4 linked regions of the Homo sapiens genome follow. The protein of the gene in region 1 purifies or fractionates together with the protein of each later gene. This does not show direct contact. Each region holds a gene or a part of one and is shown in the gene's direction. Other genes may lie near its edges.

Region 1 (5,304 bases):
GCAAAAAGCTACAGATGTATAAATCTCACCAAGTACAGTTCTTCTCTTTCAAGGGTAGCCTCTCTTTCAATTTCTACCTGCTTTTGATCATTCTCCCAGTGCCTTCAAATAATTTAAAATATGTTGTCCAAAGTTTATAATTGTTTTCTGTGGAAGGGTGATGTGACACTGCTACTCTGTCACTGTTGGAAGCCAGATGCCAAGCAGATACCTTTTGGGGCTTACGTTCAGATGCTTCCCTTGTTCTCAGCCTTGTGCTCAGCTGGGCTGTGGAGGAAATAGGACTTCTTCTCAGGGAGCTCCATTTTCAGCTGAGGAGCAGAGAGGGCACAGGGAGCCCTGTGGGAGTATCTTAGTCAGCTCAGACTGCTGTAACAAAATGCCACAGTTGAGTGGCATAAACAACAGAAATTTATTTCTCACAGTTCTGGAAGCGAGAATCCAATATCAAGGTGCCAGCAGGATTGAATTCTGGTGAGGCCTTTCTCCTTGGCTTGCAGATGGCTGCCTTCTCATTGTGTCCTCACATGGCCTTTTTTCCTGTGTGCATGTGCTCCTAGTGTCTCCTCCTCTTATAAGGATTCTGGTCCTATTGGATCAGGCCTCATCCTTATGGCCACATTTAACCTTAATTATATCCTTGAAGTCCCTGTCTCTAAATATACTCACATTGAGGGTTAGGGCTTCAACCTGAATTTGAGGGTGGGGGATACAGTTTCGTCCATAACAGAGATTAATCTAGCTTCTAGCCTCAGGATTTTGTGAGGGAGGTAGGGGAGACAGAGTTGTGTTGTACCAATAGCATCAGGACGTGTTCAATCAGTCACCATGTAAATGCAGAATGTTCCAGGCATAGCATGAAGGGCTAAGGATTCAGTTAGGGATAAGACTGGCCCCATCCCTGCCCTCATGGAACTCACAGCCTAGGAGGATAAAAGATGTATAGACATGACATTGCAGAGTGATGAAGTAGGGGACGTACAGGGCTCCCTGGGAACACTGAGGAAGAGGTGCCCAAATAAAGGTTAGGGGTCAGGAGAGGCTTCCTCAAGAAAATGTCTTTCTTTCTTTTTTCTTTTTTTTTTTTTTTTGAGATGGAGTTTCGCTCTTGTTGCCCAGGCTGGAGTGCAATGGAGTAATCTCGGCTCACTGCAACCTCCGCCTCCTGGGTTCAAGCAATTCTCCTGCCTCAGCCTCTTGAGTAGCTGGGATTACAGGCATGCGCCACCACGCCCAGCTAATTTTGTATTTTTAGTAGAGACAGGGGTTTCACCATGTTGGTCAGGCTGGTCTCGAACTCCCGACCTCAGGTGATCCTCCTGCCTCGGCCTCCCAAAGTGCTGGGATTACAGGCTTGAGCCACTGCGCCTGGCCAAGAAAATGTCTTTCTAAATTAAAATGCTTCCATGGAAGGATGGCGTGACCAAGCTACTCTGTCACTGTTGGAAGCCAGATGCCAAGCAAAAAGCTTTCGGGGCTTAGGATGAGTGAAGCATCAGCTGTGGAAGAAAAGAAAATCAAGCAGAGGGAATGGTAAGTGTGAGGGAATCCCGGGTTGAGAAGGGCACTCCAGAAGAACAGAAAGTCGATGAGTAGAGGTGGAGCTAGAGCTGGGAGAACTGGGGAAGTGGAGCAGTGAGGGATAAGGCCAGAGAGGTAGGTTGGGGCCAGCTCACTTGTTGGATTGTAACTGCCTATCCCTCTAGAGAGTAAACTCCTTTTTTCTGTTCTTTTTGTTTGTTTTTTGCTTTTTCTTTTAACATTTTTATCGTTTTTTATCTTTTATCTTTTTTCTTTTGAGAGTAAACTCCTTAAAGACAATGAATAAGTCTCCTTCAGCTTGGTGTCCTCTACCTGGCAGAGAAGCTGTGTAGTAAATGTTTACAGGTGCCCTTTGTTATGATTTGTGGGGTGAGGTGGAAAGGTTGGGCGTGCAGGTGACTTCACCTCCTTGGTGAGGCAGGCAAGGGCCTGGAGGTTGCTGGCCATCTCTGTCTGTACCTTGTCCCTGTGCCCTGGGTCACATGGTGTTTTGTTGTTGTCAGGCCTGGACAGCGAGTCCGCCTCCAGCAGCATCCGCTTCAGCAAGGCCTGCCTGAAGAACGTCTTCTCGGTCCTACTCATCTTCATCTACCTGCTGCTCATGGCTGTGGCCGTCTTCCTGGTCTACCGGACCATCACAGACTTTCGTGAGAAACTCAAGCACCCTGTCATGTCTGTGTCTTACAAGGAAGTGGATCGCTATGATGCCCCAGGTAGAGCCTGCCCCTGGGCCAGGCATCAGGGCCCCAGATCTAGGGTGTCAGCTGGCAGATACTCCCTGAGCTGCCGTTGTATTTGTGGTACTACGGGCAGGGCAGAGGAGTCCAACCAAGCATAGTCTAGGTATAGAGTCTATGCCCAAGGAGCTGCTGTTGGGAGTGTGTTACGTGCTGAGGACAGAAATGGACAGAGCCTGGAGCAGCTACTGCAGGCTACTAGAGGGGTCAGGGAAAGCTTGGCAGAGAGGTAGGATTTGAGATGGGCCTCGAAAAGCACATAGATGGGAAGAGAGTGTCTTTGGGATGGGGATCAGCAGAGCGAAGGGGTGTCTAGGGAGGCAGAGGGCTTCTCTGGAGAGGATGAGACTAACTTGGCTGGGGCCAGAGGGCAGGGATGAGGAGAAGCAGGAGTCAAGGCTGGACTGTGGGGTGGGGAGGATGGCAGGGGAGGCGAGGCCATTCAACCCTGCCTGGAGAGGGACTCCCAGGCCACACTGGGTATACCTGTCTCACTGGGGTGTCTGGTCCCTGAGTGGGGAGTCCACTCTGCTATAGAGCAAGCTATCTGCTCTGGGCTGCAGGGCTGGCACTGGATGTTCTAGGGGCTGTAGAGTAAATGAGGAGGCATGAGCTGTGTGACTTGGGCCCTGTCCACCCAGTGTGTGCCACCTGTTCTGCCCACAGATGCCCCTGAGTAACCTGTGGGAGGGCCTGCTCACATGGCAGAGCCAGAGTCCGGGTGCCCTCTCTCTGGGGCTTCCTGCCAGCCTCCAGCAGAGTCAGGTGTGCTGGTCATGGCTCCTCTGCCCATCTCTTCCTGTCTTGTGTTTGTCCCTCTTCTCTGTGTGTCTGCTTGAGTCTTCTTTATCTGTACGTTTTACTTTCTCTGTCTGGTGTCTTAGTGTCTCTGAAGTCTGTCTGTCTCTGATGCCATGTGCTGCTGTCTTAGCATTGCTGCCCTTGAGGCTGGACAGCTACTGTCAGTAGAGGTGCCTGGGCTGGGAAGAGGGAGGGACTCTTGGGATGTGACTTGCACACTTGGGGCTCCCAGTCTAAGAGACAAAATGAGTTCTGAGGAGTTCCACAGTTTAGAGCCTCCCAGTGATTCTGCAGGTGGGTGTTGGCCCAGAGGGGTGGCACAGGGGCTGAGTCAAGAGACACTCCTTCGGAGGGTGTGGAGCGGGGCTCTGAGGTGGAGTGGGTTTTGATGTGGGCATCAGGGCGGCTGGATCCCAGGTTGGCCAGGGGCTTACTGAGGAGGGGCTTGTGCCCTCTGCTACAGCGGGGCTTTCTGAGGCCAGGGGATGTGGCTCCTCACCCTCTGAAACCCTTTTCTTCTCCCTTCCCTGCAGTCCTCCAGGGAGTCCAGAACGTAGGTTGTTGGTAGGTGTGAGATGATTTCAGGGATGTGGTCAGGAGTGTGATTTCTGACACTTGCTTTTCCTGTTTGTGCCCCCAGGTATTGCCTTGTACCCCGGTCAGGCCCAGTTGCTCAGCTGTAAGCACCATTACGAGGTCATTCCTCCTCTGACAAGCCCTGGCCAGCCGGGTGACATGAATTGCACCACCCAGAGGATCAACTACACGGACCCCTTCTCCAATCAGACTGTGGTAATTCCTGTCTGCCTGAGCTGGGTCTGGGCAGCTGCTCTGTTAGCCCCGCAACCCAAGGCCCCAAGTTTCCTTTTTCCTAGGAGTCCTTCTTCCACTCACTCAGTGTGGGGCCTTAGTCCCCAAGGAGACATGCGGCTGTGCCATGTGGACACTTGGCTGTGGTTGGCTCACTTGCATTCAGGGAGGACAGTGAGGCCTCCAGCCTTTGCTGAGTAATGCTCAGGGATTCCTGACAGTGCGGTGAGACCCTGTCCCCAATGGAAGAATGGCAGGGCTAAAGGGTGGGGCTGGTGCGATATAGCGAAGTGGGTCCCATACCTGACCACTTGACAGAATTGCCAGGATACTTTTTGAAAATATGAATTTCTAGGTTCCATGTGAAGCCAACTGAATTATAATTCCTTAGGTGGGGCCTGAGAATCCATAGTTTGAAATTAATACGCCAGCGTAAAGGAGCGTCGGTCTGGGGACAAGGACTCCTGGGCCCTGGGCTGGCCATGCTGTCGTGCACAACACAGCACGGCTGGGAAGGATGACTGAGGGATGGGGTTAGGAGCGCCCTGGAGGAGTGGCACTGCACAGGGTTTCAAAGACAGGGTAGGCGTTTTGTATTGATTTACATCTCATCTTTTTCATTTCATATTCTTGCTTCAGAAAGCATTGAAAGGGGCTACAATAGTTTTCCAGATGAAATTGGGAAGGAAAGGTTTTCTAGGCAGAGGAAATTGCACCATGACCTAAAGGGAAGAGACGACATGTTGTACTTGTGCCTCTGGGCACAATTGCAGTTGGTGGGGAAATGTTTCATAGGGTCAGGAGCCCTGGAAGACTGATGGGTGATGAAGCTGTGGACAGAGTAATGGCCAGATGAGAAAAGAACATGCATCGTGCTGTAGAGCCACACTTGCTCCCTTGGGTAACAGGGAACTGTTAGTGGGTTTTAAGATGAAAGAATAACACTAATTTTTTTTTTGTTAGTATGTGAACGCTAGGCCCCCTCCTAAAATCCTGCTAAAATGATTCTCTAAGGAATGAGATAGAACAGACTAGAACATCAATAATAGCTTTGCACGTGAAGAAAGGATATCACCAGTGGACCAGACATTTTGAGGAACTGGTATAAAGCATAAAAAACAGCTTGGGCCAGATTGGTGGAGCAAACAAATTAGAGCAAATCCCTAACCCAAAACAGATGAAGGAGAGACCTGTTGTAGAGGTACAAGCTTTCCTTCCAAACCCCCAGCTTGGAATCAGCACCGTTAGAGAGCAGGGTAGTCATTACTGGACTGCCTGTTGGCTGGGCCAGACACACCCTATACCCTCCCCAGGTATGCAGAGCCGCTGGGGATGGTTGCCTCTGGGTAAAAGACCCTGGAACCATTCTCTACAGAAGCGAAGGGAAGATGATTCTTTGTGTAGGCATAGGAAA
Region 2 (5,191 bases), on another chromosome or scaffold:
CAAGACTCCAGAGCCTCTTTGAGGAGCACTTGCAGGGGCAGCTGCAGACCCTGGCTGCACATCCCATTGCCAACTTCCCTTTGCAGCGCTTACTGGATGCAGTCACTACCCCTGAGCTGGTGAGTTGGAAACCTGAGCTGGATCTGTTTCTGCTAATTCTTGATCACTGGACCTTATTTTATGGTCTGTCTGCCTCTATATACCTTTGACATTGTGCTGGCCATTGCCCTTGAAAAGCTATTCTTTGAGGTTTTCCAGAGCTTAGGATAAAGGTGCCCACCTTCTAGTGAGGATTTGTTTTGACTTCTCTCAGGTATGAGGACCAGCAAGAAACTGGCTTTATTCAGGTTTACAGCTTGAGGTTCCATGGCCCACCCAGACTCTGGTACTTGGCTATAAGCCCACATGAGTGCTAGAGCTGTTGCCATAGCTTCTCTTTTCCTTTGCTGCTTAGGACTAAGGTGGGCTTCCCTGTGGTCTCATGCATTGGGTGTTAGAGTGGAAGTGCAGTTTAATTTTAGTCTCCCCTTGCTCCTAGTGCTCCCTTACACATAGGGAAGAGCCACTTAAAGTTCCTTCCTGTGAGGTGGCACCTCTAAGACTGCCCCCTTATCCTGGGCCTTATCTAGCCAAACAAAAGTCCTGATACTGGCAATGCTTTTTATGTTTTATCTAGCATTTTTAGTTGTTTTCGTTGGGAAGATTTCTCTGAATAATGTGGTCCGCCATTACCAGAATGCCAGAGTTACATTCCATGTTTCCCATCAGCTGTCCCCTGTGTTTGAGGAGCTGAGCCCTGTCTTGGAAGCTGTATTGGCCCAGGGCCACCCAGGGGTAGTCATTGCCCTGGTGGGGGCCTGTCGCAGAGTTGGGGCCTACCAAGCCAAGGTCCTACAGCTCTTGTTGGAGGTGAGTGGATATTACCCACAATCTGTTTATGCCCTCAGTTCAACTTCTACCTTTTAGGACTTATCTAATCTTAAGTTTTTGTACCTCTGGACTCAGGAAGTCTAATGCCCAAGGAGTTCACAGGAATGGGGGAAAATGAGGCCTATAGGTGCCCGCCACCATACCCAGCTAATTTTTTTTTTTTTTTTTGAGACGGAGTTTTGCTCTTGTTGCCCAGGCTGGAGTGCAGTGGCGCAATCTCAGCTCACCGTGCCCGGCTGAGGCCAAATGTTATTTCACAGTCCTGGAACAAAAATTGTCTCCCAGAACTAAGAGAGAAGTTTATTTAAGGGATAAACATTTATTAACCCCTGTATGTGATAGAGGCTGGGGATACAGCAAGGCATGACATCTGCTTTCATGGAGCTAACATTCTTGTGGAGTTGGGCCTTCTTTCCTTTCCTGAAGGTGTTCCCTTAAAGTTGAGGTAAGGGACGGAGAAGTTCTCAGGTTCATCATATTCTGTCTTCTCCTTTAGGCATTCCACTGTGCAGAGCCCTCATCCCGGCAAGTGGCCTGTGTGCCTCTCTTTGCCACTTTGATGGCTTATGAGGTGTACTATGGACTGACGGAGGAGGAGGGGGCAGTGCCTGCAGAGCACCAGGTGAGGTAGGGGAGAGGCCAAGCCAGTGACTAATTGGGAGTCAGGCCTCCCAGGGTTTAGCAAGCGTCTGACTTCTGAGGTGAGAGTGGTGACTTCATCCAGGTGGAGGTGGCAGTGTTCTGGGGATGGGCTCATCCACCTGGCTTGTTGGTGCCTCCTAATTTCTTATCTCTGCGCTGCCAGGTGGCAATGGCCGCAGCCAGAGCCTTGGGGGATGTGACAGTCCTTGGGTCTCTACTGCTCCAGCATCTGCTGCACTTCTCCACTCCTGGTCTTGTACTTCGAAGTCTGGGTGCCTTGACGGGACCACAGCTTCTGTCCCTTGCCCAAAGTCCCGCTGGCTCTCATGTGCTCGATGCCATCCTGACCAGCCCCTCTGTGACGCGCAAGCTGCGCCGCCGTGTGCTGCAGAACCTAAAGGTTAGATTTCTGGCTTTTGCCTTGATTCCCCACCATCATCCATTTAGAGAATATGAGCTTTCCCTGGACTGTACCTTCAGACTCAAAAAGGCTATGTAATTCCTAGACTATTTTAATTCAGCCCTTAAACTCTTCAGAAAATTCACTCTCCACAAGCCTCCAAAATACTTTTGTGGATTTTGCTAGGGAGACCTACTTTGCTTGTCTCCATACAGGGACAATATGTGGCTCTGGCCTGTAGTCGCCATGGCAGCCGTGTGCTAGATGCCATCTGGAGTGGAGCAGCCTTGAGGGCCCGGAAGGAAATTGCTGCTGAGCTTGGTGAGTACCAGCCCCTCTCTTTGATGTTTCCAGACTCTCCCCTCTCTTACTCCAGATCACTGGGTAGCTGGGAAGTCTACTGAAATTCAACAGTCTTTAGTTCCAAAGGGTGGTCTTGCTCATGGGTTCTTAGCAGTCTGCTTTCCCCTTCCCTCCCGCTGACTGATTGTGTAGTCCTCTGCCCTCACCCTGCCCTCTGACTTCTGTTCTTTGGAAAGTGAAGTGTTCACTTTATCCCAGTGGCAGTCCCAGGGTCTGGGGGAAATGGAGGGATCTTTACGTCAAGTAGAGTCTGTCTTTGAGCATGGTAGTACTAAACATGAGTGGTTCCCTTTGCAGGGGAGCAGAACCAGGAGCTGATAAGAGACCCTTTCGGCCACCATGTGGCTCGAAATGTGGCCTTGACTACCTTCCTAAAGCGGCGAGAGGCTTGGGAACAGCAGCAGGGTGCGGTGGCCAAGCGGAGGCGGGCATTGAACTCCATACTTGAAGACTGAGGCTTTGGATCTGGGACTGGGTGTTGATGGGGGAGGGCAAAATGGGGTATCCACCCCATCCCTTTCCTGGTTTAAATTGGAGTCAGAAGTCTTAGTGGTAAATATTTGATATTTTTATTGGAAATGTTTTTGTTAGTTTGAGGGGAAGGGTATGAAGACAGATCTCAAGGTAAAGTCAGAGAGGGCTGTCATCAGTATGCTGGGGAGTTTAGGGACAGGAGGCATTGGTAGGGGATTAGATGTAGCAGCAGTCAGGCTGGGATCAAGATGCCTGGGGGACATCTTGATCTTGGCCTTTCAGGGCAAGTGGGAGGCCAGAAAGGTGGCTAGGAAAGAACAGCATTCTTCAGGTAAGGGTATAGACTTGGGATGTGAGGCGTTATGCTGAAAGGTTCTGTCACGAGGGGATCAGAGGACAGTGGGGAAATTGGGTGGGTTATCTAGCCTGTACTGTCTGCAGGTCCTGAAATTTGATGCTGTCATAGTCTTTGCAGTGGGTCGGTTGGAATGATTCTGGGGGCAGAAGCTCAGAGCCCCTTAGTAGGAATGGAGGCGGCCCTTCTGCTGCCACTGCTCAGCCCCCTCCACTGCATGACGAAGGGTGGAGGAAATTCCCAGCAACATATGGCCCAGGCCTTGCAGCAGTGTGGAGGTCCAACGAAGGAGCTCCCTGAATGGCAGAGACAAGAGGAAATCAGATGATTTGGAAAACTTGGGAGGAAGCCATCAAGCTGGGAGATGAGGACTTTCCACAAGCAAGAGCTAACTAGGGGTAGGTGGGTGCAAGAGGACGAATTATGGGGACTATCCAACTGTAGGGGATGGGGCAGTATGACATGTTGATTTCTGACCTGAGTACTTTCTTTGGGCCAAGTCCTTGAAAGTCACAACTCATAGAGTAGAGCCCGTAGAATGTGGCTTTGACATTCAGGCTGCCAAAGAGGTCTCGAGGGTTTTGCTTGTACACGTCAAAGGTGAATCGGGCGATGTCCTTGCTGTGCTTGGGCCTCTCCCGTCCCAGGCCATATGACAGCACTCCACTCTGTAGGACACCCTTGTCAGTGCAGTAGATCCTCATACCAGACACCCACCACTAATCTCCATCAGCACTGGGTCAGACCCTCCCTCGCTTGGACTTTCTGTCCACTGTGTGACATCCTTGACAATTCCACAACTCCTCCTGCACCTGGTCCCCAGGATCAGGGTTAAGCTAGAGAGGAAGCCCGGGAAAGCTCTAAAGGACAGGCATTGGAAGCAGCCCCAGTATAGGCCTCTTACCCTTGTAGGGCTCCAGCTCTGACCAGACTGCAACACCATCAGGCACGTGTCATCCTCCAGCAGCTGGAAGAAGTCCTCACTGTCCACTGCAGTTCCATCCTCCTCTAGCACCAGGGTTAGCACTCCATTCAGCAGTAGGGTCTCCAATGCCTGCCCAATGGCAAGAAGCAAGAAGGGCAGGTCTTATCCCATGCCCCTTCCCTCTTTAGCTGCCCAACATCCATCAGTTGGCTCTAGACATTGGTCGATGTCCCACTTTGACTTTCCGGCACTTTGATACCTCCTAAAGGTTGCAGCTCTCCGTGTTCTTCAGTTTTTGGGGGATCCTAGCTAGAGGCTGACCTTTTTCCTCTTTGCTCCTACCATGTCATTGGCATCTCCCCTTGCTCCCCTCCAAGTCACTTCTGGTTTGGAATTGGAAAGCAAGCCAGGTTCTCACGAAGTCCACCCTTCTGTCTTATCTACAATGCTGCACCTCACTTCCCACACCCTCAAGAGTTCTCCAGAAGTGTTTTCAGTAATAGTGTTTAACCTTTTTGAGTCCTTACTCTGTGCCAGGTATGAGGACTTTACCTACATTATCCTCTTACTCCTTTCAACAACCCTAGGAGGTGATGTATTATTATTGCCTTTTTATAGTTGAAGAAACTGAGGTTTTGGTAGGTTGAACAACTTCCCAAGGTTTGACAGGCAGGAAGTGGCAGAATCAGAATTTGAACTTGATTTGTCACACAAATCACCTTTCCATACTAGCTTCTGAATTCTGTCCCTCGAACTCTCCCTATCTCCTGCTAACCCCTGCTCCCATAGAAAAGCTCACTCGGTGGAAAATGAACAAATTGACCAGAGCTCATTAGGCCCACTCCGCTGCTTTTAGCCCTCAGAGGGAGGGGCAGCTGTGTGACTTCAGCCCTCTGCTCCATCATCACAAGTTGCCACTGTTGTGGAGCCCCTTGGCTACCCCTGCTATAGGAACCGAGGAACTTGGCCTACTTACTTTGGCTAGCAGCTCCTGGCGGGTGGCAGCTGTCAGGCCTTTCCGGATGGTCCGCTTGTGATCACAGACACGGAAAGGTCGCTGGGGTGGTGGAGCTGAGGTCCAGACCCTCCGTCCAAACTCCGA
Region 3 (5,304 bases), on another chromosome or scaffold:
TATTAGCCTGTAAGTTCACATAATTGCTAAAGTTAAGAATGCATGTTGTGTATGATAGGTGATGGGTTTCCAAGTTTGGAGAATGATTTAGGGCAATAATTTTACCCTGAACTTACTGCTACATTTAAAATATTTGGGTTGAATTTTTCCTTTATCTTCCATTTTTGGAAATAAATAAAAATTATAATAATCATAATATAAGTAAAAATTCAGTATTAAGTGTAGGGACAGTATAAAAAATTACTACTGTATTGTGAAACTTCCTTATTTTTTCCAGCTCTTTGTGTCAGGAAGGATGTTCTTGAGTTGGATTGTGCAAAAGTTCATTCTGTCTAAAAGTTGAATTTATCTGTTTTTCTGCCTCATTTTTGCTTTTTAATTAAAACTTTTGCTAAATTAGAGGTGAGAAAATTTATTCTAAAATGTTTGCTGTGGTCACCAGAACTCTTTTAATAAGGTATATCTGACATAGCTCCTTTGCTAGAGGAGAAAAACAAAATACAGTTTCTGTTGCTTTCAGCAGGCCATCATTGGAAGTTTTATAAATGTACTTATCTGCTTGGGCATCTTAGCAAATATTTAAGAATAAATAAGAGCCTGGAGGGCATGAGACATTTTTATCCCAAAAGGAAAACTTTCCTCCTTTTTTTTGTAGTATTTTTACACTTAGAATATTCCTTCTTTACCTTTTCAATAATTTTGCCAGGTACAGACAAGCAAGGAACTCTAATACCTTTTAATTTCTCTGTTCTTTATGATGTCTGGCACATAATTGCTTCATAAAAGTTTGTTGAATTGAATTTTATACAGTCAGTTTAGCACCACCAAGTGGCAAGTCTTTGAATGCTCTTGATATATTTTGCTTCCTATGAACACCTGATTCCCAGCTAAGTGAGGGTATGATTGTTAATTTTTTTTTGAGGCAGGACTAATTTCTTTCTTTTTAGTGAGAATGTCCTCATGTATGTATGTATTTATTTTTAATTAGGTTTTTACTGTTTACAACAATGGACTTTCTATGTAAATTATTTTTTATACAGCTTTTTTTTTTTTTTTTTTTGCCCTGAGACATGGCCTTGGTCCGTGGCCCAGGCTAGAGTGTAGTGTGTGATCTCGGCTTACTGCAGCCTCCGCCTCCTGGGCTCTAGTGATCCTCCCACTTCAGCCTCCTGAGTAGCTGGGACTAAAGGCATGCACCATCACACCCAGCTAGTTTTTGTATTTTTTGTAGAGATGGAGTGTTGCCGTGTTGCTCCGTCTGCTTAGAACTCTTGGCCTCAAGTGATCCGCTCACCTTGGCCTCCTAAAGTTCTGGGATTACAGGTGAGGCACTGTACCTGGCCTATACAGCTATTTTTGAGATACAATTGATATGATAGACCACATGTATTTAGAGTATACAACTTTGACATTTGTGTACACCATGAACCCATGAACACAATTAAGATAATGATGTTTTCACCACCTCTGTTAGTTTTCTCGTGACTCACTGTACCATCACTCCATGTGTCCTCAGGCAACCACTGAGCATTTTTTGGTCACTATAAATTAGTTTTAATTTTCTAGAACTTTATATAAATGGAATTATATAGTATATACTCTGTTTTTGTATGGCTTTCTTTATTCAGGATAATTATTTTGAAATTCATGGTGTTGTATGTATCATTAGTTTTTTTTTTATTTCCAAATAATATCCATTGGGCCAGGCACGGTGGCTCACGCCTGTAATCCCAGCACTTTGAGAGGCTGAGGCGGGTGGATCACGAGGTAAGGAGTTCGAGACCAGCCTGACCAACATAGTGAAACCTTGTCTCTACTAAAAATACAAAAATTAGCTGGGTGTGGTGGTATGTGCCTGTAATTCCAGCTACTCGGGAGGCTGAGGCAGGAGAATTGCTTGAACATGGGAGGCAGAGGTTGCAGTGAGCCGAGATTGTGCCACTGCTCTCCAGCCTGGGTGACAGAGCGAGACTGTCTCGAAAAAAAAACCCCACAAATAATATTCATTGTATGGGTATACCACATTTTGTTTATCTAGTCATGTGTTTGATAGACATTTGGGTTATTTCCACTTTGACTGTTACAAATAAAGCTGCTCTTAGGCCAGGTGCCGTGGCTCACACCTGTAATCCCAGCACTTTGGGAGGCCGAGGTGGGTGGATCACCTGAGGCCAGGAGTTCAAGACCAGCCTGACCAACATGGAGAAACCCTGTCTCTACTAAAAATACAAAACTAGCTGGGCATGGTGGTGCATGCCTGTAATCCCAGCTACTCGGGAGGCTGAGACAGGAGAATCGCTTGAATTCAGGAGGCAGAGGTTGCGGTGAGCCAAGATCTTGCCACTGCACGCCAGCCTGGGCAACAAGAGCGAAACTCTGTCTCGAAAAAATAATAAAACAAACAAATAAATAAAATAAATTAAAGCTGCTCTGAGCATTGGTATATGTGTTTTATGAAAATATGCTTTCATTTTTCTTGATTGGATACCTGGGAATGGGGTGGCTGGATCATATATATTAGTTGTGTGTGTAGCATTTTAACACACTGCCAAATTGTTTTCCAAAGTAGGTGTAGTGTTTTATATTTCCACTGGCAGTGTATGAAAGTTCCAGTTGCTTCATATTTTTGCCCATATTTAATGTCAGTCATTTTAATTTTAGCCATTCTAATAGGTGTGTAATAGTGTTTCATTATGGTTTCAGTTTACATTTCTGTAATGACTAATGGTGTTGAGTATTTTTCCATGTGCTTATTTGCTGTCCTTGTATCTTCTTTGATGAAGTGTCTGTTTAAATCTTCTGCTTATTTTTTTTCAAACTGTGTTTTTTTGTCACTGAGTTTTTAGTGTTCTTTTTATGTCCTGGATTTTATATTCTGGATACAAATCCTTTTAATACAAGTTCATTTGGGTCTTTTTAAAAAAATTATTTATTTTTATTCATCTTATATAAAAGGGGGGCCAAATCTAAGAAAATAATGTTATGTCAAAGTTTGTTTTTTAAAGCATAAACTTTCAGAGTTTGTTTTAAGGTTAATACATAGAGTGCTAGCTTTTTAGTCACCTGAGAATCAGGAAATTCACTTGGACGTAATTCCCTGTGGTAACAAAGAACTATGGCTTCCTATGGGTTTGTCAAGCTCCTAGGCTTCATTCAGCCTGAAATTATACTTTTCTTGTTATGTATAAATTAAATAAAATCTATACAACTGTCTGTTCTTCTGTTGCCTCACATCATGTCTATAAAAACAGCATTTAAAGTTTGCAGGAAATAGAATTTTGGCCTGTTACAAAGCAAACACTTTGTTTCTTTAACTCAGAATTCTGGAAATGCAATCAAGTTCTAGTATTGTGACTGCCAAAATATTTTGTCATCAGATATTAATTTTTTTCAAGTGTCTGACTCCATACAAGAAAATAATAAAAGTATCAGAAGTTAACTGTGATTATAAAAAAAAAAAAAAACAAAAAAAAAACAAAAAACTTCAGTGTCCATAGGGTTGTTCCTCATGGTTTGTTAGGATACTCCTGCCTGATCCAAGTGCATCAGGTCTGAGACTGTTCTTTGTTCCACGCTTCTATCTGCCAGAAGAATCTTTTTAGGTAAGGAGGCTATCATAGGAGGCAATGGAGCTTCTAGCTGTTGTCCAAGGAATGAAAGCAGGCGCCTCCAGCTGAGCCACTTCCCATGAACATAATTCCTGTAATCAGTCAAAACACTCCATGGGCCTCTTCAAGGGAAGATTCCAAACTCATTCCAAAAGCAACTTCCATTACTCCAAAGAGCGAAAGAGAGAAGGTTCTTATGGTCAGCTGTAGATTCAACTTCATTATCACGTTACAGTGGCTGTCCAGATTGATGAAAATAATACTTTGTGAATCATCAGTCAGTACCGTAAGCTCCTAAGCTGCATTGGAGACATCGTCAGCTAGTCGGTAGTAGTTTTCCATCAGCAACTCTATCTCCTCTGCATGGTCAGTCCCAGTACTGCTCTTTTCAAAGACTCGGGGGTCACTCCATTTTGATAGAGCTCTTCTAGCAACTCTTTCTCATCCAGGATCTCCAAAATTGACTCTGAAAATTTTAATATCTGTTTCTAACTCTAATAGACTTTTGCCATTCTGTAGTAAAATGTGGAGTTTGCTTCTGTCTATAGAAGAATGTTTGGGGTCCACCAAAGCTTCCAGCGTCTTGAGGATCAGTGGCTGGAAAAGGCTAAGTTTCCCCTGAAGGGTGTTGATCCAGTATTGCAGGAGTGCTTCTATAGCTCTAAACTCAAAAAATTAAAGGGTTTCTAACAAGTTGACCCTCTCCAGACAATTGTGAAGAGAGTTCCCGGAACAGCCATCGCTGTGAGTTTAAATTATGATAATCTAATATCAGAAGACACTCTGGAGTTATCTCAGCTTTCAAATACTCCATTCTCATGATAATCATATTATTTCTGGCTGTGATACTCATTACATAGTGAAATCTCAAATCTCTGGCTTGAAGACCTAACTCTTGGTATAACTCAGTTTTCTTCCTTTCAAAAGAAGTAACATTTCTCTGTCAAATTTTGTCATGGTAAATACTGGGGCTATACTGGCTAGAGTGGTTTGAAAGACATCAGAAGTTCTAAACCAGTGCATTTCACCTGCCATGTGGAGCCGGCGGGGTTCGCACAGTGGGCCACCCAGCTCCTTCTGAGCAGGTTGGCTGCACAGCCACAGGCAGTCGCAGAGTTTTTGTTCTGTCGCCCAGGCTGAAGTGCAGTGATATGATCATAGCTCACTACAACCTTGAATTCCTGGGCTCAAGTGATCCTTCCACCTCAGCCTCCCAGGTAGCTAGGACTACAGGCATGTGCCACCATGCCTGGCTATTTTTTTTGTTTTGTGGACGTGGGGTCTAGCTGTGTTGCCGAGGCTGGTCTTGAACTCCTGCCCTCAAGGCGATCCTCCTACCTGGGCCTCTGTATTAGTTTTCACATTGCTATAAAGAAATAGCTGAGGCCGGGCGCAGTGGCTCACGCCTGTAATCCTAGCACTTTGGGAGACCGAGGTGGGTGGATCGTGAGGTCAGGAGATCGAGACCATCTTCGGCAACATGGTGAAACCCCGTCTCTACTAAAAATACAAAAATTAGCCAGGTGTTGTGGCGCGCGCCTATAGTCCCAACTACTTGGGAGGCTAAGGCAGGAGAATCGCTTGAACCCGGGAGGCAGAGCTTGTGGTGAGCCAAGATTGTGCCACTGCACTCAGCCTGGTGGCAGAGCAACACTCCATCTCAAAAAAAAAAAAAAAAAAAAAAAAGAAAGAAATA
Region 4 (5,304 bases), on another chromosome or scaffold:
TTAAATTTTTTGTAGAGGTGGGATCTCACTGTGTTGCTCAGGCTGGTCTCAAATTCCCGGGCTCAAACAGTCATCCCTCCTCAGCCTCCCAAAGTGCTGGCATTAAAGGCCTGAGCCACTATGCTTGGCCAGGCCAGCTTTTTTTGAGAGCTTACCTCTGTCCTGGTTGAATTTCCCTTAAGCCCACACCTTCTTCCACTTTCCTTTATAAGGCTTTATAATAGAGTATTAAAAACAGAAAATTTCCCATATTCCTATATTTACTAAAGTCCTCTTCCTGCCCTTTCTCTAAGAGCTGCTGGGCACAGTGCTGGTTTGGAGCTTTCAGAGTGCCCTGCTCCACTTGGAGAAGGCACTGGAATATATTTCTCCGCCCCGTCCTCCCAAAAGACTCCTGCCTGTCCTGTCTTTGTGCACATTGCTGTCCTCAGAACTGGGTGGACCAGATATCTCTATTAACCTCTGGGGAACTATTGCAGACTTAGATTATGTGTCAAACGCAACATAAATAGGAATAATGTGCTTTGAAGAGGCAGCACAACAAAGTTGATTATCACATGGGTCTTGGGGCTAGATTGGTGGACTCTTGCTTGATCTGGGCCATATCACTTCACCTCACTGAGTGTCGAAACCTTCACCTCTGGAATGGGAATAGAAACAGTACCTGTCTCGAAGCATTGTTGTAAATGATAGATGAATTAATCCATGTAAAAGGTTTTCAAACAGTAGTACTTAAATGCTGAATTATTCTAAATGTTAACTCTTAAAAATGTGTCCCTGCCTTTTAGAACCCCACAGTCCAGTAACTGATAAGATCTACTTGTATGATATTCTAAGGAGGATACTTGTGTATACTTTATCTCTTCAATAGGCTGAATATTCTGAACTGGTCGAAACATTACTATCAAGTCAGCAAGACCCAGTTATTTACCAGAGATTAGCAGATGCCTTCAACAAGCTCACTGCAAGCAGCACTCCTCCTACGCTGGATCGGAAGCAGAAGATGGCCTTCTTAAAGAGTTTAGAAGAATTTATGGCAAATGTTGGTGGTCTCCTTTGTGTAAAATAAACAACAGAACTTTATGCTTAATTTAGATCCTTTCTGCAAAGTGCACTGAATTGCTGAAAGTTGACTTGAGTCTTGTCCTATTCCTCAGTTCATTTGGCCATTTTGGATTTTGGAGAGCCTGAAACTTTGATATGTATGTAATACAGTGAAACAGGAGAGGTCAACTTGGCATCAGCTTCTGCTGTTAAGTGTTAGCCACAATCTGTCATATATATGTCTTTTAGATTCTGAATGGTGATTTAAAATTTTCAAAATGAAATTCCATATATGTGCAAACAGATATGGGCACCACGAAATACATATGCAGTGCCTTTTTTCCTTTTAACATAGGTGGCTAGCCAAAGTTTAGAATTTTTGTCATTAAATATGAAATGGATATATGCTAGGCAGTGTTTCTCAAAATCTCCATAGATCGCCTGCATCACTTGAGGAGCTGGTGAAAAGGCAGATTCTTAGGCCCAACTGTAGACCTTCAGAGTCAGAATGTCTGGTTGTTGGGCCCAGGAGTCTTCATGTTAATAAGCTTCTCCCTTTCGTCACCCCAAAAGTTTTGAATCAATGAAAGAGACATTGAAAACTCTTAAGAGGTTTTGTGCTTTCTAGCTTTTCCTCCCTTTGATGATTGGGTTTTATAATTCAGCAGGAAGGGGAAACATCACCAGGGGTTTGTTGGCTTTTTCTTAGCTTGCTTTCTTGCTTGCTTGCTTTCTTGCTTTTCTTGCTTTCTGTCTCTCTCTTTCTTTTCTCTCTCTCTCTCACATCAACCCAGTGCTGCAGGTTTTGTGTAATACAAGTCACTAATCATACTCTGATGCCTGAACTTGAGGAGGAAAATACATGTATATTTTTGTTCCGTAAAAATAACCTTAGGAACTGTAGCCATTTCATTGCCTTAATTTTAAGAGGAAAATACAAAAACAGCTGATTTGTTTTAGTAAGAAACCACGTCTTGATGCTTCAGAGTTGGTTTAGGGTGTTAGCTGCTATGAACCTGTTGCCCCTTTCGATCGTGTATTTATGTAGGTTTATCAGTGAAATGAAAGGCTTGTTTCCGTCTAGTCTAACTTTTTGAGTGTGTTTCTATCCAGCCACATAGCCCATATCTACTCTAAATGGCTTGCTTAAGCAATAATTATTTTAAAGGATGTGAATCACTGATTCACACAGACTATTGCACGTTGGGGCATTAGGGGCAATAATTCTTATCCAGACATGGGAGCCAGTGAATTTAATTTCAGAGATTAAAAATTCACTTTAGATCCTCTAGTTTGATCTCTTAATCAGGATTTTTATACAGCTGCCAGGCTCCCCTAATTCAGTGTGCCAGCTTACAATGTGGAAATGAAAGCTAATTTATACACAGCAGGCATATGAAACTCCACTCATTGCAGTACTTTCACAGCACAGTGACAGGTAGAGGACTCTGGCACAGGTGCACTCATGAAACTCTGCTTCCACCATGTTCCTGACACCTATCTATTAAACCATTCTGCAAATACGGTTTTTCTACCTGATTGCATATAGCATATGTGTCATTACATGTGATGCTGTGCAAAACTTTGTATAATTCTGTGTTATTAACAGTTAACAAAACTGGAGCATCTGAATTACATCCAACCTGTGCATGTGATGTTAGGTAGATGTGAATGCAGGGCCTTGGGCCATAACTTACATTTCTCTCAATTTGATTAGCTTTGAGTCACAATTAAGGGGAAGCAAAAACATCTTGAAAAGACTGCTAGGAAGGAAATTAATATCAGTCATCCAGAAGTACACGTTTCTGTATTTTAAAAAATACTTTGATGCATTTATTTTTAGGTGTTTTTTTTTTCCCCTTAAAAAACTTGAAGTGATATGCAGCAGTAATCTATTTGTTTTGCATTGTTCTTGGTGTTTTGTGTTTCCCAGATCCCTCAAGCTTTCTCAGCTGTTGTGAATTATGTGTATCTGTGTGTGTGCTAAGTACAGTCTCTTTACCAAAGGGCACTGAAACACACAATTGACTGGACAGGTCCACGCGCCATGACAAAACTATAATCAAGTTATTAAAACTAAAGAGGAGTGGGAAAGGAATGCCTTGGTAAGTAAAAAGGCATCTATATTTAATAACTTTTATCCAGATGGCAACATATTTGCAAAATTTGCCCAGATCCTATTACAATACTAAAAATAGAAAATTTCACCTCCATATTCCTGAGGTGTAATTTCATTAGACTAGTTTTAGTTTAAAAAGACCTTCTTCAGATTGGACCAAATAATACTTATAAGATCAGCAGAATGTTGAATATTAGCTCACTGGGGTGGGGAGAAGCCACTACCATTTTTTAGGTGATGGGGATGCCACTGAGTTGCAACGGCTAGACCTTTTCAGGGTGGTTGTGTCCATGTTTGCCTGATTGGATGCTTATTCACTTTGTGTTTTCTTTTGTTTTATTTTGTCCAATTTTGTCTTTAGCTGTGTTTATTAACTTCTCCGGTCTTGTTTTGTTTTAATGCTCTTGGCCCAGTGGGTGTCAAGAACACTGGCTTAATTCAAGTCAGTTGATTTTTTTTCTATTAAAACTGTTGTTAAAATATTTTTTAAAACAAAAACATTATTTGTGCCCTCTTTTATATATGTCAAAGGGACACTGTCAAGTATTTCATTTTTAGATTTTTGTTTTATAAAATTTCTGTTGTTCATATAGTATCCTTTAACCTCTAGTTTTCCATACATCCTTTGTTTGTTTCTCATTTTATTTTCCTTGACCCATTTATTTCCCAAGGCACAATCACTAAAGACTTTGTACTTTCACAGTCTGTTAATGTGGTAGCACCTGTAACTGTGTTCTTGTTCTGTTAAAAGGATTGATTTGCTTTTATAGTCCTTGTGCTGGATGAGTGGCTGCCTCAGTAGCAAAACTACCTGACAGTATTTGACAGTGTCCTTTCCAGCACCATTATTTGGGTCTTTCAGGGTGGCCATCTCTGTTAGAAGACAGTAGCATGTTAACATCACTGCATTGAGTTTTTGTCTGGTGTAAAGTATGACTTTTAATGTAAACAAACTGCAGGTTTTTTTCAAACTAATTTTAAGAATTTAGTCTTATTTCGTTGTAAACTGTGTATCTAATTATATTACATTACTCTGTTCAGATGGGATGGTTACTACCACTTGTCCATGATTTTCATTTGAAAAGCAAGTATCTATATCATTTCCCCCCAGTCAGCATTATTTAACACTCCCCTTAACTGTCTTTGAACTTTCTCTTTTAACAAAAATGTCAAGTCTTTATAGTTGTAATATCACCATGTTTCCCATTTCTGTTAATACTTCTATGAACCCCTAAAGTATTGAAGGGAACTAGCTGTCAGTTTCAAGGATTACAAGTTTGAGTCTCCTAGTATTCAACATCATTCTGAACCCTGAAATAATATTTTTCTCTGTTAAACAATTTTTATCTGTTTGCCACCTCTGTTGTTAGAGGTGGTTGTCAATTGACCTTACTAAGTTAGCTGTCTTTGATGAGGAATTATTGTTATTGGTTCCTGAATAAAACATTAACCTTTTAAGTCAGAAGGAACCTCGGTACTTCTTAAGGTTTGTTTGTGTTTTCTAAAACCAGAGAATAAGGAACTGATTTGGCTATGAGGTTTAACATTATAATTTTCTGTAAGCTTTCCCACAAAAAAACATTGTTGATTTGAGGATATAATAATGTTTTAATCTTTTTAAAATATAAGTGGTTATTCTCTGACTTGGTAACTATGTTCTGAAAACACTGCATTTAAGAATTTTTAAAAATTGGTTTTCTAAAATTAAAATGTCCAAATTAGGCATATTGCTGAGCTCAAATTGATGTGAAATGCCATGGTTCCAGTTGAATTTTAAGCATATTTTCATTTAGATATAAAATATATGAAGTATGCTTTGTTGATTATAGTGAGAACCCATGACATAGTTAACCAAAGAATATGTTTGGTTCAAATAAAAATAGAAGCTTAATACTGGGCATTCATACTTTTTAAAGAGAATGAATGAAGAAATCGGTTTCCTGCTGTAGTTCTCTATGGGTAAGTCTTAGTAAAGACGAGAATGCTGAAGTCGGCCGTGGCGATTCCCTCCTAGGAACTGGGAGGTGTGGCTTGCCCATTACCCGCTTGAAGCTCACATCTTTACCCTCCTCTCCCACTGTGGTTTGATCTTCACCTATTCCCAGGCCCTCCCAGCAATTGGAGAGGTGTCTTTTTTTTTG

Evidence for each region. Proteins that work in one complex are often made in the same cells at the same time.
Region 2: the proteins of PACC1 (region 1) and NOP9 purify together in Homo sapiens (co-immunoprecipitation; 3 studies listed by BioGRID and IntAct, with this or other methods). This does not show direct contact.
Region 3: the proteins of PACC1 (region 1) and TBC1D15 purify together in Homo sapiens (co-immunoprecipitation; 3 studies listed by BioGRID and IntAct, with this or other methods). This does not show direct contact.
Region 4: the proteins of PACC1 (region 1) and XPO4 purify together in Homo sapiens (co-immunoprecipitation; 3 studies listed by BioGRID and IntAct, with this or other methods). This does not show direct contact.

Annotation. Positions count from the first base shown.
Region 1 is NC_000001.11:212,383,842-212,389,145, reverse strand, and holds part of PACC1 (proton-activated chloride channel), read left to right. Parts: intron 1-2,045; coding exon 2,046-2,255; intron 2,256-3,720; coding exon 3,721-3,872; intron 3,873-5,304. UniProt on the Homo sapiens protein: Chloride channel gated by pH that facilitates the entry of chloride ions into cells upon exposure to extracellular acidic pH. Involved in acidosis-induced cell death by mediating chloride influx and subsequent cell swelling.
Region 2 is NC_000014.9:24,302,306-24,307,496, forward strand, and holds part of NOP9 (nucleolar protein 9), read left to right. Parts: coding exon 1-119; intron 120-676; coding exon of another isoform or gene 677-685; exon of another isoform or gene 686-762; intron 763-768; coding exon 769-909; intron 910-1,426; coding exon 1,427-1,552; intron 1,553-1,735; coding exon 1,736-1,972; intron 1,973-2,187; coding exon 2,188-2,293; intron 2,294-2,632; coding exon 2,633-2,790; 3' UTR 2,791-3,327; coding exon of another isoform or gene 3,328-3,460; 3' UTR 3,461-3,641; coding exon of another isoform or gene 3,642-3,832; 3' UTR 3,833-4,068; coding exon of another isoform or gene 4,069-4,218; 3' UTR 4,219-5,065; coding exon of another isoform or gene 5,066-5,191. Other genes in the region: lipid transferase CIDEB, read right to left, coding at 3,328-3,460, 3,642-3,832, 4,069-4,218, 5,066-5,191.
Region 3 is NC_000012.12:71,845,715-71,851,018, forward strand, and holds part of TBC1D15 (TBC1 domain family member 15), read left to right. Parts: intron 1-2,577; exon of another isoform or gene 2,578-5,269; intron 5,270-5,304. UniProt on the Homo sapiens protein: Acts as a GTPase activating protein for RAB7A. Does not act on RAB4, RAB5 or RAB6.
Region 4 is NC_000013.11:20,779,487-20,784,790, reverse strand, and holds part of XPO4 (exportin-4), read left to right. Parts: intron 1-871; coding exon 872-1,069; 3' UTR 1,070-5,304. UniProt on the Homo sapiens protein: Mediates the nuclear export of proteins (cargos), such as EIF5A, SMAD3 and isoform M2 of PKM (PKM2). In the nucleus binds cooperatively to its cargo and to the GTPase Ran in its active GTP-bound form.